4 linked regions of the Homo sapiens genome follow. The protein of the gene in region 1 interacts with the protein of each later gene in a pairwise test. Each region holds a gene or a part of one and is shown in the gene's direction. Other genes may lie near its edges.

The links.
Region 2: the proteins of ROR2 (region 1) and TPTE interact in a two-hybrid assay, tested with the Homo sapiens proteins (one study listed by BioGRID and IntAct).
Region 3: the proteins of ROR2 (region 1) and DUSP14 interact in a two-hybrid assay, tested with the Homo sapiens proteins (one study listed by BioGRID and IntAct).
Region 4: the proteins of ROR2 (region 1) and ALG13 interact in binary tests that used the Homo sapiens proteins (3 or more experiments, as listed by UniProt).

What each region holds. Positions count from the first base shown.
Region 1 is NC_000009.12:91,754,729-91,758,228, reverse strand, and holds part of ROR2 (tyrosine-protein kinase transmembrane receptor ROR2 isoform 1 precursor), read left to right. Parts: intron 1-669; coding exon 670-957; intron 958-2,127; coding exon 2,128-2,158; intron 2,159-3,500. UniProt on the Homo sapiens protein: Tyrosine-protein kinase receptor which may be involved in the early formation of the chondrocytes. It seems to be required for cartilage and growth plate development. Phosphorylates YWHAB, leading to induction of osteogenesis and bone formation.
Region 2 is NC_000021.9:10,524,583-10,528,082, forward strand, and holds part of TPTE (putative tyrosine-protein phosphatase TPTE), read left to right. Parts: 5' UTR 1-106; intron 107-2,772; 5' UTR 2,773-2,830; intron 2,831-3,500.
Region 3 is NC_000017.11:37,506,891-37,510,390, forward strand, and holds part of DUSP14 (dual specificity protein phosphatase 14), read left to right. Parts: intron 1-3,500. UniProt on the Homo sapiens protein: Involved in the inactivation of MAP kinases. Dephosphorylates ERK, JNK and p38 MAP-kinases. Plays a negative role in TCR signaling by dephosphorylating MAP3K7 adapter TAB1 leading to its inactivation.
Region 4 is NC_000023.11:111,708,670-111,712,169, forward strand, and holds part of ALG13 (UDP-N-acetylglucosamine transferase subunit ALG13), read left to right. Parts: intron 1-295; coding exon 296-379; intron 380-3,005; coding exon 3,006-3,056; intron 3,057-3,500. UniProt on the Homo sapiens protein: Catalytic subunit of the UDP-N-acetylglucosamine transferase complex that operates in the biosynthetic pathway of dolichol-linked oligosaccharides, the glycan precursors employed in protein asparagine (N)-glycosylation.

The sequences.
Region 1 (3,500 bases):
TTACGGTGCTTTTGTGGCCTTTCACAGACACACGCCCACGGCAGTGAAAAATTTGTGTCCCAGCTGGGGCTAAACAAGGCGATGGTCTGCTCCCTGGTTTCTGCCCTCATATTGTGAACATGTGGCCTTTTCTTGGTCTATTTAGTGCCAAGTTTCTTGCATATTTGGGCTTTTTGTTGGTGATTTTATTGTTTATGATGGCCCCCAGGCACAGCACTGAAGTGGTCTGGTGTTCCTAAGTGCAAGAAAGCTGCGACATGCCTTATGGAGAAAAAAATGTGTGTGAGAGAAGCTTCGTTCAGGCATGAGTTATGAGGCTGTTGGCCATGGGTTCAATGTGAAGGAATCAACAGTACACATTGAATATGGTGTCTTTAAACAGAAACACACATAAACCAAGGTTATGTATTGGTTGGTTGGTGAAAGTATTATGACGAGAGGCTCACAGGAATTTGACTCTGTATTTCCCATAGGAGCAGTGGTTCAGTATTCACTAATTCAGTGTTCCCTGTAGCTTTCTAGAAGATAATTACCGCAGATAACAACCTATTTTAGTAGGTGACAAAAATCGAAACCTTCCCTTGGAAGAGTTCATAGCAGAGCCCCCAGGTAGCCCTTCCTTCCAGCCCTCACTGACGCTTGCTCTTTTGTGACCGCTCTCCTTGGCAGGTTACTTTCTGAATTTTCTGGAGCCAGTAAACAATATCACCATTGTCCAAGGCCAGACGGCAATTCTGCACTGCAAGGTGGCAGGAAACCCACCCCCTAACGTGCGGTGGCTAAAGAATGATGCCCCGGTGGTGCAGGAGCCGCGGCGGATCATCATCCGGAAGACAGAATATGGTTCACGACTGCGAATCCAGGACCTGGACACGACAGACACTGGCTACTACCAGTGCGTGGCCACCAACGGGATGAAGACCATTACCGCCACTGGCGTCCTGTTTGTGCGGCTGGGTGAGTTGGACAGTGAAATTGTGTGGGTTAGCAGATATGAAGGTTCCCAGCCACCGAGCAAGAGGTCCAGTTGCTATTTGAAACTGAACACACACCAGTCAGCACGAGGGGAGAGCAATGAAACCGTTCCCTAGGGCCTTCCCCATGTGCCCCAGGGCCCAGCTTGACCTGTTACCCATTTACTAGTAATAAGAGAAAATAGGGCGAGGCACGGTGGCTCACGCCTGTAATTCCAGCACTTTGGGAGGCCGAGGTGGGCGGATCACCTGAGGTCAGGAGTTTGAGATCAGCCTAGCCAACATGGTAGTAGTTGGCCAGTTTAGTAGAAACTCCATCTCTACTAAAAATACAAAATTAGCCTGGCATGGTGGCGGGCGCCTGTAATCCCAGCTACTCAGGAGGCTGAGGCAGGAGAATCGCTTGAACCTGGGAGGTGGAGGTTGCAGTGAGCCGAGATCACGCCATTGCATTCCAGCATGGGTGACAAGAGTGAAACTCTGTCTCAAAAAAAAAAAAAAAAAAAAAAAAGAGAACAAAAAGAAAATAGGTGCAGATGGAGAGGTTTATGGACCTGGAGCCCAGAAGACAATCCCAGGCACACACGAGGAGCTGAGGTGTTTAGCAGGAAGGCTGTTTGTTAGGAGGTCAGGTGTCAGTGGGAGAGTGGCCACACTGCAGGACGGCTAGGTAGGGCCCGAGGCTGACCTGGCTGGGGTGGGGAGAGAGCTGAGTGCGATGACCAGAGATTCTGAGTCTCTGTGCTCGTCACACCTGGTGAAGGAATTAAGTGGCAGGAAGGACTGTGTCCCCCTTCATCCCACCTGTGAAAAACTCCCAGGCAGCAAACGCCCCGGCCCTGCCACCGAAGCCCACGCCATCCGATCATAAGTAGTAAAACAGATTTTGTGTGTAAAGACTAGATGAGAAGAGAGAGAGTAAGGACAGCAAAAACTCCAAAAACAAAGATATCCTCAGTGACAAAGCACCCCTTCCCTTGTGTGTGGTTTCCAGCCTTGCTGACGTAATCACGAGTGGAGCCTGAGGCCCGAGGACAGCTGCCCACCAGTGAGCCCGCTGGCTTCAGCCTGTTTGCCACTGGCCTGATTTGAAGAAGGTTGTATTCCAAATCATGGAGTATTAATAACTTGTCTTTTTGTTTCCTCTTTTTAGGTCCAACGCACAGCCCAAATCATAACTTTCAGTAAGTATCTGTTTTCCCCAAGCCGTGTTCTGCTGCTCTGAGGGTTTTTGTTATGTAGGAATCCGGGGTTTAAATCCTGCCAGCTCATGTCTTTGCCGAATTTGCTAGAAGTTGGCTGGGCTTCACACAGGGGTGGCCACGTGCTTGCTTAGGGTTGGGAAACATTTACATTTTTCATGTTTCTTGTACAGAAAAAAAGTCAGAAAAACAAAAATGGTTAATTTCTTTCTGTGATTGTGACCTTACACAGGGCTACTGAGAGGAGTATAAATATACAGGCCAGGTTGCCTGGGCACCAGGAAGGATACCGGCTCATTAGGACATTGGGAAACAGGGACGTAATTCACTCTGAAATCCCAGCACTACCAGCTGCAGTTAATAAATGTGTGCCCCTGAGCCTTGGGCCACCCCGTGGCAGTGGGTGGGAGTCTCAACCCCACCTTGCAGATGAGGAGACCGAGGCTCACAGCCAGGCTCACACTCCTTCACGAGCTGCTGACAGCAGTGGCTTTGAACTCAGGCCTCTGGTTTCCCAGTACGAGGTTATTCCACTGTGGCCAGGCTGTCTTGGGAGAGTCCCCTCTGAACTGCCCACACTCTCCCATCGTGTACCCAGAGGAGTGCTCATTCCATTGCCGGTGTTTGAGATGAGCAGTGACTGTCCGGGTTTCCTGCATTTCCTCCTCAGACATATTGGAGAGCAGTGCTTCACTTTGAGATGTTCTGAACAATAGCATGAACACTATATGGTTGGTAAAGTGTGCAGTGTTGGCTGATTTCTGTTTCCCTGGGCCTTGTACCCATTACCCACCCATGATGTGCTGCAACACCACGTTGGGAGGCTGGGCAGGGCAGCGACCTGTCTCAGCAGACATCAGCAGCTTGCTTGCAGAGGGCAGATTTTTTTCCCCCCCCAAATAGACAGGCCTGGCTTTTCACCCAGACTGGAGTGCAGTGGCACGATCACAGCTTACTGTAGTCTTGTACTCCTGGGCTCAGGCCATCCTCCCCCTTCAGCCTCCCAAGTAGCTGGGACTGCAGGTGCGTGCCACCACACACCCGGATAATTTTTTCTTATTTTTTGTAGAGATGGGGTCTCACTATGCTGTCCAGACTGGTGACAAACTCTTGCCTCGAGCAATCCTCCTGTCTCGCCCTCCCAAATCACTGGGATTGTAGGTGTGTGCCACCACACCTGACCTAGAGGGAAGATATTTGGGAAGATTCTGTGCTGAGCAATAGTGATGGAGCATTTTTCCTTAATAGTCCTTCAGACACAGAGTAAGGAAAGAAGAAATTGCATCATGAGCACAATTATGGGGCTTTGGAAAAAGGCATATAA
Region 2 (3,500 bases), on another chromosome or scaffold:
ATGTTGGACCGACGACACAAGACCTCAGACTTGTGTTATTCTAGCAGCTGAACACACCCCAGGCTCTTCTGCCCGGCAGTGGCTCTGGAAGCAGTCTGGTGTATAGGTAAGCATGTCCAGGGCTTATAGGGAGAAACTCCCAGAAATCCAGCTCTGCCTTGGGTTGCCCTGGTTCACGTCCAAAGATGTGCTTGGGCCACATCTCTGGAGCACAAGGTGGTAGACTGAGAGCTTTGATATTTCTACTCCTACTGCAGATGAGCTGGTATAACTCTGAAGGTATGGAATTTGCTGTTGTCTGTGACCCAGCAAATAAAAATAGAAAAATAATTCGATAGAAAAATAATAGAAATAGAAAAAATTTAAAAAACAAACCAAGCCTCATTCTATGACATTTTAGGCAGTGTGATAATATGCATATACTGGTCACTTTAATCTTTCCTACAGGGGCAGCTGGTTGCCCTAATGTTGGATGCTCTGTTCAAGGATGGTAAGCTAGTGTTCAGCTCAGGAAGCCACTCCACAGAGATGGCCACCAAAAGGGCTTCAGTGGTCCCATCTCAATTAACACCTGAAACATTGTTAATTATTACAGTGAAGGTCACAAATGGGTTTTTATTAGTGAAATTGGCGGCTTACAAAGCAGCATGATGGATGTTACAATTATATGACATTTTAAGATCTGTGAATCAACTAACGTGTTTTGGAGACAGCCCACCCTTGCATAAACAGGATAAAGGTGTATGAGGGTGGCCTGTAGTGTATATTTAGAGACGACACCCAAGGCTTGATCCTCATATGGTCCTATCTCCAGGAACGTTTAGGAAGATTTTGGCCTCTGAAACATTAGGAATCTGTTGAGAATGAAGCTTTCATGCTTGGAGTACCTAAAGTGCGGAAAGCTTACAGAAGCTTATATACTGTGTCTGCTTGCTACTGAATGTTTTGTTAAATGAATATCTGTATGTGTGGCAGATTTGGTCGGAGACCTACTTTTCATTATAACCTGGTAGCATGATTATAAAGGTGTAGCTAACCTTCAGCTAACTCAAACTTCTGTGGTTGCTCCTATCTACCAAAAAGCATTTAAGAATTCTGCATGACCACTTCAGTTTAGGACGGTTTGCAATTCTCACCTTCCTTAGGGGGCAATTTAGCTAGTTACTTATTCATGTCCCATGAGGGAAGTCATTCTGTGCCCCAAAGCAGCTTATCAAAGTATTATTTCAGACTTCATGCAGTACTCTCCCTGGAGTTCAGGTAACATCTATGGATGTCTCGTGCCCTTTTTGGAGATTAGTTTCCCAAGGAACTTGCTTAGCAATCCTGGCTTGTCACCTGAATCTGGAGTAATTTGAGTGTCTTCCAGTTCTCTTCCTCAGTAGAGGATGTCTGAAAAATCTAGTAATCATTTAATAAGGCTGCTTATGTCAGAAACTCAAATTCTTACCTTTTTGGTGTTTTGAACATTTTCCCCTGTTATGATTTATTAGTGTATTCTGCATAGACAATCCAATTATTCATCCTGCTGAAAAGTAGCGGATGCCTATAGATGCCTTTCTTTTTGTAAAAGGTTATTGTTTTTCCTGAGACCTGGATGAATTTCCAGGAGCCATTCAAGGACATGAGAACACCCACTTAGAACTTGAAAGGTTCCCCTCATGGCCCTCAGACCAGGCTAACGAGATGCGATAATTTGAACTCTGGCACTCCTTTCCTCACAGGCTGAAAGACTAGCACAATATTAATGTCTATCTGTGCTTAAAGGTTGGAGCTATTGATCAGAGTCCAAAATTAGTTTGTGTAGGGGAACTTTTCTTAAAGACATAAAAAGATACCATTTAATATATTGTTTCCAAAATGTGTTTCTCACACATTTCCACTGTGAGAAAGAGGTTCTGTGGTCAAATAGGTTAAGAAACCTCAGCACACTCTTAGAGAATCCCAGTTGTTATCAGCAGCAAAAAAATGTATGTGATCAGTTTCTTAAACTTATTTAAACGTTTGAAAAGTTAGAAAATTGTGGTGAAGAGCATTAATTCTTGAGTCTTGGGAGTGTATTACCTTGATGAGAATGTTTGTGTATTTGAAACTAAAAATGTGTATCCGTTTATATTGCCACATACTGATTTTTATGGCATAATATATGGTGTAGAGAGCAGGTTGTCTAAAAACCAATATTGGCAAAATGCTGAATATTCAGCATGGTTTTATGAAGTTGACAGATGTGGAGTGTATTTTGCATGTGTCTTAACTTACAGATGAGGAAATGAAGTAGCAGAGAGATTAAATTAGCCAAGCCAGGGGTTTCGGTGCTAGGAAGTCTTGATATTGTAAAACATAGCCATATAACTTTAAAAAAATGAATCCAGACAAAGAGAAAACAAAATCATTGTAAACACATAATCCACTTTAAGTTCACAAAATGTTTTAAACATAATTAAGGCTTGACTTATCTACTTGTTTATTTCCTACCAAGGATGACCGGGAACTAGCCATTGATATAGAAACATTCATTATTCTTACATTTTCTTTCTTTTTTCTGTGTCCCCTCTCTCTCTCTCTCTCTCTCTCTCACACACACACACAGACACACACACACACACAGTCTCAGAAGTACTAGTGCTGTATCCTGAAATTGTTTCTTTAGTTCTTGTCAAAATTCCTCCGATTTTATTTTTTGTGTCCTGAAATACTGTTGAGATTAACATCCTCATTGCCTTCCAAAATATCTGACTTTATTTTTTGTATGTGCTTTTTACTCTTTGGTAGAGTTATGGATTCACTACCAGATTCTACTGTATGCTCTTGACAACTATGACCACAATGGGTGAGTTGACTGATCTAAGTGGTGAAAAATACTGGGAGCATCAATGGCAATAACAGCTTTCTATCAGAGACTTTAAGCATCTTTGGTAACATTGTTTTTGAACCAGAGTGGAAAAAATAAGATCAGGTCAGAAGAAGGATGCTTGGTACTCAAAGATTGTTTGTGACTCTAAGTAATTAGCAGCCAAAACCTTAGGAAACTATCAGAATGCCTGTGTATGAGACTCTCTTCAAGAGTGGTCCAAGAGAGGAGAGAATCCTACTTGGAGAAAGAAGGTGGTAGCATTGGACAGGCAGCAGAGGAGCCCTCAGCAGCAAGAAAGGAGCTAAGAGACCCTGTATCTGTCCCTCACCCTTCAGAGCTGGTGCCCCAAACTCAAAGCCATCATCACATTGGATGGAGCCCCTGCCTCAGGTTTAGTCACTTGATCCTATTTGAGGAGAAGCAAAGATATCTGTGACTCATGAAGAGCATGAAGGTGGTGGAGGGACTTGATAATTAGGAAATCAAAATGGGCAAGAATAATGTGTGCCTACAAATGGGACATGAATTTGAAGGAAATTTAAGTTAAATTTGCTGCCACACATGATGATCAGGTTCAGTAATAATTGTATTTAAATCTTGATTCATTAAACTTTTTTGAGAGTCCTAAACAATTTTTATTACCAAC
Region 3 (3,500 bases), on another chromosome or scaffold:
CTTTCTGTAAGTAGCACTGAAACACCTTCTTAGGCAGATCCACACCCCCCCGCGTGTGTGGCAGACGCTGGCTGGTGGTGTGGAGCGCCGCGAGGCAGGTGATGAGAACACAGCCACGATTTAGTCACCGCAGAGAAGCAGTGTGTGGACTTGAGCTAGAAATCCGGACACCTTCCATCTTTTCCTAGTTTCACTTCTCAAGTTGAAATCTCTCACCCTTTCTGAACCATGTATTTTCCAATCTGTCAAGGGGGTCAGGAGTGTTTGTCAGAGAAGCATCTATAGCATCTGTGCCCTCTACGTGCCCTCTGGCGGAAGTTGTTTTCCTGAAACTTTGGACCAGCTTTGGCATTTTAAGCAGGTTTGTTGGCAAAGAGATGGACTGGCAGCAGCAGGGAGGGAGCAATGTGTCTGTCTCACTTGGATTCTGCCCCGAGGGCTCACAATCTGTTTTCCCTGCAGCACCAAGTACCCTAGCGCCACTCAGCAAATGCGAGTTAACGGAATCAGCCCGGCTTCTACAGGGAACCTGGGCTCCTTTGCCTCAGGAAGGCAAGTGGCTTCCCAGACAGCGTAATTTGGGAGGATGCATCGCTCTGCCACCCAGGCTGGAGTGCAATGGCGCGATCTCAGCTCACTGCAGCCTCTTCCTCCCGGGTTCAAGCGATTCTCTTGGCTCAGCCTCCCTACTAGCTGGGATTATAGGCATGCACCACTGCACCTGGCTAATTTTTGTATTTTTAGTAGAGACGGGGTTTCACCATGTTGCCCAGGCTGGTCTCAGGTGATCTGCCCGCCTCGGCCTCCCAAAGTGCTGGGATTATAGGCGTAAGCCACCGTGTCTATGGCCAAGCCTCTCTGAATTAGACAACAACTAGATAACCTACTTGGAAATTTGATTAGCATCTTCCAGATTTTCCACAATGAGGAGCGTCATCCCCAGCAGCTTGAAGGCCTAATTTTGTGTTTATTACCACAGTGACTTTGCTTTTTAAACCAGTAGGATTCTGCCAGGGAAGACTTGGAAGTGGCAGGAGACCCTGCTCTGCTGTAGGAAAGGATGTTCTCAGAGTTTCTGCCCTGTTCATAGTTTACATCCAATGCACACACACGCAGTTTCCTTATGTGACTGCGTCCTTGTTCCTCCTCATGCTGTGATTTCACCTGTGGACTGCTCTGTGTACTCCCATAGCATTAACCAGTCATGGGATGTGGGCTCCCAAAGCGAGGCCTAGCCTCGAGTGAGGAGGCAGCTCCCTTCAGAGAAGGGCAGTGTCCAGGAGGGACTTGTGGTCTGTTAGCACCAGTACACCTGGTGCCTCAGTCTTCCAGGGGGAATGCAGACAGAGCCACAGCACTCACCTCTGCAGCAGTTCTCAGACGTGCCCCCGACCCGCAGCCTCACCTCAGAAAGGCAACTCTTCCAGCCCCACTCTGGAGGGACGGAATCAGAAGCTGGGGAAAGGTCCAGCAGTCTGTGCGCACAGCCCTCTGGGGGATTCTGAGGCATGCTCAGGTTTGAGAGCCCCTGCATTATAATGATAGAAATAGTTGTAAATGGAGCCAGGCACAGTGGCTCATGCCTGTAATCCCAGCACCTTGGGAGGCCAAGGTGGGTGGATCACTTGAGGTCAGGAGTTTGAGACCAGCCTGGCCAATGTGGCAAAACTCCGTCTCTACTTAAAGTACAAAAAATAGCAACGTGTGGTGGTGCACGCCTGTAATCCCAGCTACTCAGGAGGCTGAGGCAGGAGAATCTCTTGAACCTGGGAGGTGGAGGTTGCAGTGAGCTGAGATTGCGCCACTGCACTCCAGCCTGGGTGACAGAGCCAGACTCCATCTCAATATATATATATATATATGTATGTATAAATAAATATATATGTATATTTATAAACTTTTTTTTTCAAAAACCATTTTAAAATGTTAAACATACGTGTCATAGGACCCAGCCCTTCACTCCTGGGTATTGAACTGAGAGAGGAAGGCATATGTACGCACAAAGACCTGTACGTGGATGCTCATAGCAGCTGTACTCACAATACCTTTAAACTAGAGACAACCCAGGTTCATCAGTAGGTGAATGGATAAACAGAGTGTGGTGTATCTACACAGCAGAGTACTTAAGAAGTGAGCTGTTGATAACCCAGCGTCATGGGTGAATGTCTAAGTTATGCAGAGTGAAAGAAGCCAGACCAAAAAAAAAAAAAACCCATATATATATATATATATATATATACACACACACACACACACACACACACACACACACACACACTCTATATATATATGTACTATGTATATGTGTACTATATATGTATATATACACTATATATACACACTATATACACACTATATATATATATATATATATATATATATATATATATATATATATATATATATAGTGTGTGTGTGTGTGTGTGTGTGTGTGTTTAGTTTTTGAGACAGAGTCTTGCTCTGTTGCCCAGGCTGGAGTGCAGTGGTGCAATTTCGGCTCCACTGCAACCTCCACCTCCTCCTGGGTTCTAGTGATTCTCCTGCCTCAGCCACCCAAGTAGCTGGGATTACAGGTGTGTGCCATCATGCCCGGATAATTTTGGTATTTTTAGTAGAGACCTGGGTTTCTCCACATTGGCAAGGCTGGTCTCGAACTCCTGGCCTCAAGTGATCCACCCGCCTCGGCCTCCCAAAGTGTTGGGATTACAGGCGTGATCCACCACGCTTGGCCTATATATATTTATATGCTATAAATATATAAAAGTCCATTGATAGAAAAGTCTAGAGTGCAAACCATAGTGATAAGAAAGATCAGTGGTTGCCTGGGAATGGGGTAAAGAGCAAGAAAGGGTTGGATTATTAAAAAAAATGAGGAAATTTTGAGGGGGATGATGGATGTGTTTATTATTATGATGTACTGGTGTCTCCATTGTGTACATATGTCAGAACTCATCAGGTAATGTACCTGATCAAGTTGTATAGCAGTTTATATGTCAAGAACACCTCAACAGAGCTGTAAAAAAAACACGACAGGTCTGACAGTTACCTGGGAAAGGTGGGGGAACAGGTGGTAGAAGAACACATTTTTTATGATGTTCATGGTACTTACATAACATAAATGAATAAAATAGGGCCAACATGGAAAAGAAAACAAAATGAAGGAAAATGTCAAATTGCCATCCTGAACACCAGCACCGCCTGTAATTAGCGTTCCTGGCTGCAGCCACATCTGCGGTCCTGCTCCTCATGAAGCCGTCCTCCGTGCCATGTCCCGGCCATGCCTGTCCTTAGCTTCCTGGTGCACACTGTCCTCCACCTTGTGTTCAGGCACAGGGCTGCTTGGCTCACCCTTGCTGCACCTGGCCTGTCCGTCCTCCCACCGCGGTGCCGCCCAGGCCTTCCCACTGCAGGGCTGGCTAACGGTGCATGGAAGAGACTCGAGTCCGTGTTGTGTCCTCATAGCCCACCGAGGAGGCAGCAGTGCCGGACATTTCGCGGAT
Region 4 (3,500 bases), on another chromosome or scaffold:
AAATATATCTTGATCCTTTGTAAGCATCCCCTGCTTCCTCTAATTTTAATGCCTAAGAAAAAAATTATAGGCTGTGCACATAAGGAGTAGAAAAGGGGATGGGGCATGACAGTCATCCTTCCCCCATTTCGTTGAAGATGATATTAAAAAAACTTTTAGTAAGATGATTTAATTTCCCAATTTCCTACATATGTTCTGAATAAGGAAGCCTTAAGTGTCCAGTTCATAGTCTTGATTTAGAAGTGCCTATTTTAAATGACTACTGACAGTGGGCTGGTCTTTCTCTTCTTTTTAGTTGTTTTGCAGCCAGGTCCATCATTTGGAAATCAGGAAGGCTTGTGTCTCATATATGAGGGAAAATCAACAAACTTTTGAGTCTGTAAGTAGAATACATACCCAGGGGAGAACTGGTAGAGTGTGTAGCAGGTGGAAAAATAATTGTGAGCACCTACCAAAATTAAACTATATCATGCTGTCTCCTCAATAGCAAATATATAATTCCCAACTGGCTCCCTTCCCAGTAGCTAACATGCTTCTTGAGCCTCTGCTAGAATTAGGTTGTTTAGGACTCTAATTAAAAATCAAGAATAATCTACATTTTCCCACTACTTACCTCGTCCTACGCCAAGAACTCCAGACCCTAAAAAGTTATGTTTTGATTGCTGTTTTATATTATCCATACAGTTTTATTGAACAATTAATAATAGTTCATGAAAGGTTTGGCTCTGTTAATATTTTGCAATGCATATTTTAAAATACGTAAAAATGGGAACCCCCTCTATTTTCTTGCTTAATCCTGTGTACAATAATCTTCAGCCAGTCAATTTGAGGAATCTTGTAAAACTTAATTGTAAGGGAACAAATGAGTCTAAGTATCTAGTCTTTCCATGTCACAAATTGTATAATTAGAGCTCTGCCACTAATGATTAACTTTAGGTAAAACAACTTACAGAAGACATATTTGTACACCTTCATGTATTTGAATTCTTGTTAATGAAATTGGAGGCTTCCTTTTCTTTTTTTTTTTTTTAAACACTTCTGGCCCTTGCAGTGCTATTTGTTTCTTCTGTTTATTGTGGGTATTCGCCTGCTGTTCGAGTTTTACTCCTAATTTTCTCAACTGGTTTCAGTGAATTTTAAAACTATGTGAAGACTTCTTGACTTAAAAGCTTGTTACCTTGAAGTTCATTGTAGTCTTCTCTACACCTGGGGAAAGGATTATTAGTAACATTACTTCAAATGCAAGGCCATAGTGTAAAGCAGTGCGTCTCAAGTATTTCTGTGCATACAAATCACCTGGAGATCTTGTTAAAATACAGGTTTTCATTCAGTAGGTCTGAGTTGGGGCCCGAGATTTCTTTTTTTTTTTTTCTTACCTTGAGACAGGGTCTTCTCTGTTGCCCAGGCTGGAGTGCAGTGGCAGGATCACGGCTCGCTGCAGCCTCTGCCTACGAGGCTGAAGCAATCCTCCCACCTCAGCCTCCAAAGTAACTTGGGACTACAGGCACACGCCACCTCACTGGGCTAAGTTTTTTGTGTTTTTAGTAGAGATGGGGTTTCGCCATGTTGCCCAGACTGGTCTCAGACTCCTGGGCTCAAGTGATCTGCCCGCCTTGGCCTCCCAAAGTGCTGGGACTACAAGTGTGAGCCACTGCGTGCAGTGGAGATTTCTGCATTTTTAACGAACTGAAGTAATGCTTGCTATTGGTTTGTGGACAACATTTTGAGTAACAAAGATGTGTGTAAAATTTTAAAACTACGTAAATGAATCTCAATTCAGTACTGAGTGATAGAAACCAGACCCCATGCAAAGTTTATACTGTTTGATTTCCCTTATATAAAACTCTAGAAAAAATACAAGCCAATCTGTAGTGACAGAAAGCAGATCAGTGGTTATATGTCAGTTATAGAGGGGCACAAGGGTACTTACGGAAGTGATACATTCACCATCTCAATTGTGATGATGATTTCATGGGTGTATACATAAGTCAAAATTTGTACTATTTAAATTGTGCAGTTTATTGTATGTCATTTATTTATTTTTTGAGATGGAGTCTTGCTCTTTCACCCAGGCTGGAGTGCAGTGGCACGATCTCGGCTCACTGTAAGCTCCGCCTCCTGGGTTCATGCCATTCTCCTGCCTCAGCCTCCCAAGTAGCTGGGACTACAGGTGCCCGCCACCATGTCTGGCTAATTTTTTTGTATTTTTAGTAGAGATGGGGTTTCACCATGTTCGCCAGGATGGTCTCGATCTCCTGACCTCATGATCTGCCTGCCTCGGCCTCCCAAAGTGCTGGGATTACAGGCGTGAGCCACAACACCCAGCCTGTATGTCATTTATATCTCAAAACTTTTTAAAAGGAAAATTTAAATGATTTTTTAAAAGTCTAGTGATATGTATCCATGGAACTAGAAATAAATCTATTACAGTCCCTGAGTTTAATTTCATTTTTATTGAGGCATATTTTACATTCAATAAAACTCGTCATTTTAAGTTTACCATTTTTAGTTTTGGAGATGATATGCAATCATGGAACTACCACTGCAGTCAAGATATAGAATGTTTCCGTCACCCCTAAAAGGTTCGCTTGTCCCATGGTCTTTTTAGAAACTAATGAAATTCTCTTTAAAGTTCCTCAGTTTAATTTTGTAAATGCATGTTTTGTCAAATTTGAAATCCTTAGAAATACTGGTCTTGCTTGATTTATGAAAATTGTCATTACTTAAATTGGCATTTCAAATGAAACTCGAAAGCATACCATTTGATGAAATGCACTGGTATGTGGATATGCCAGGACCAATTCCTAAGATACTTTTATACTCCAGCTTTTCTCCACTCATGACTTTTGTGTATGTGCAAATCTTCTTGAGGTGCTGTGCAAAGTAGATACTTACACCATAATTGTTGAGCTGAGCAAAAAACGCATTGCAGGATAATGTAGAATATAATCAGATTTCAGTAATGCTGTGTATTTGGTTAAGTTGAGTTTGTTTTATTTTTGAAGTATGTGGAGGGATCTTTTGAGAAATACCTGGAACGGTTGGGAGATCCCAAGGTAAGATCAAATATGGGGGTTTAATCTTTTCAGAGTTATTTGGAATAGTAATGTAAATTTATTCATTCAACTGTATTATTTTAGCCAGACCCCAAATATTTTATTTAGTAGCCAGCTGTGTTGAATCCAATAGTTCTCACATAAGTTTAGAGGCTGGCAATTGACCAATTGTTTTGTGTTGAATATTGATAATTGTGTGTTAATCCCATCAACCATAGACTAGCAAAAGAGTATACACTACTTGGAAACAGGACAAGCTTAAGCCTTTTCACTTTAACGGGGGAGGAGGGTGGTAATGAATTTTACCAAGAGGTCATTATTTTGTTATTAAACAATTCCCCTGATTTGTAGTTGTCTTCCTCTTATGTGGGAGTAAAATTCATAAATTCATGCTTTATTTAGAAATAATTTTTATGTGATAAAGTTAATTCCATAGTTCTGGAC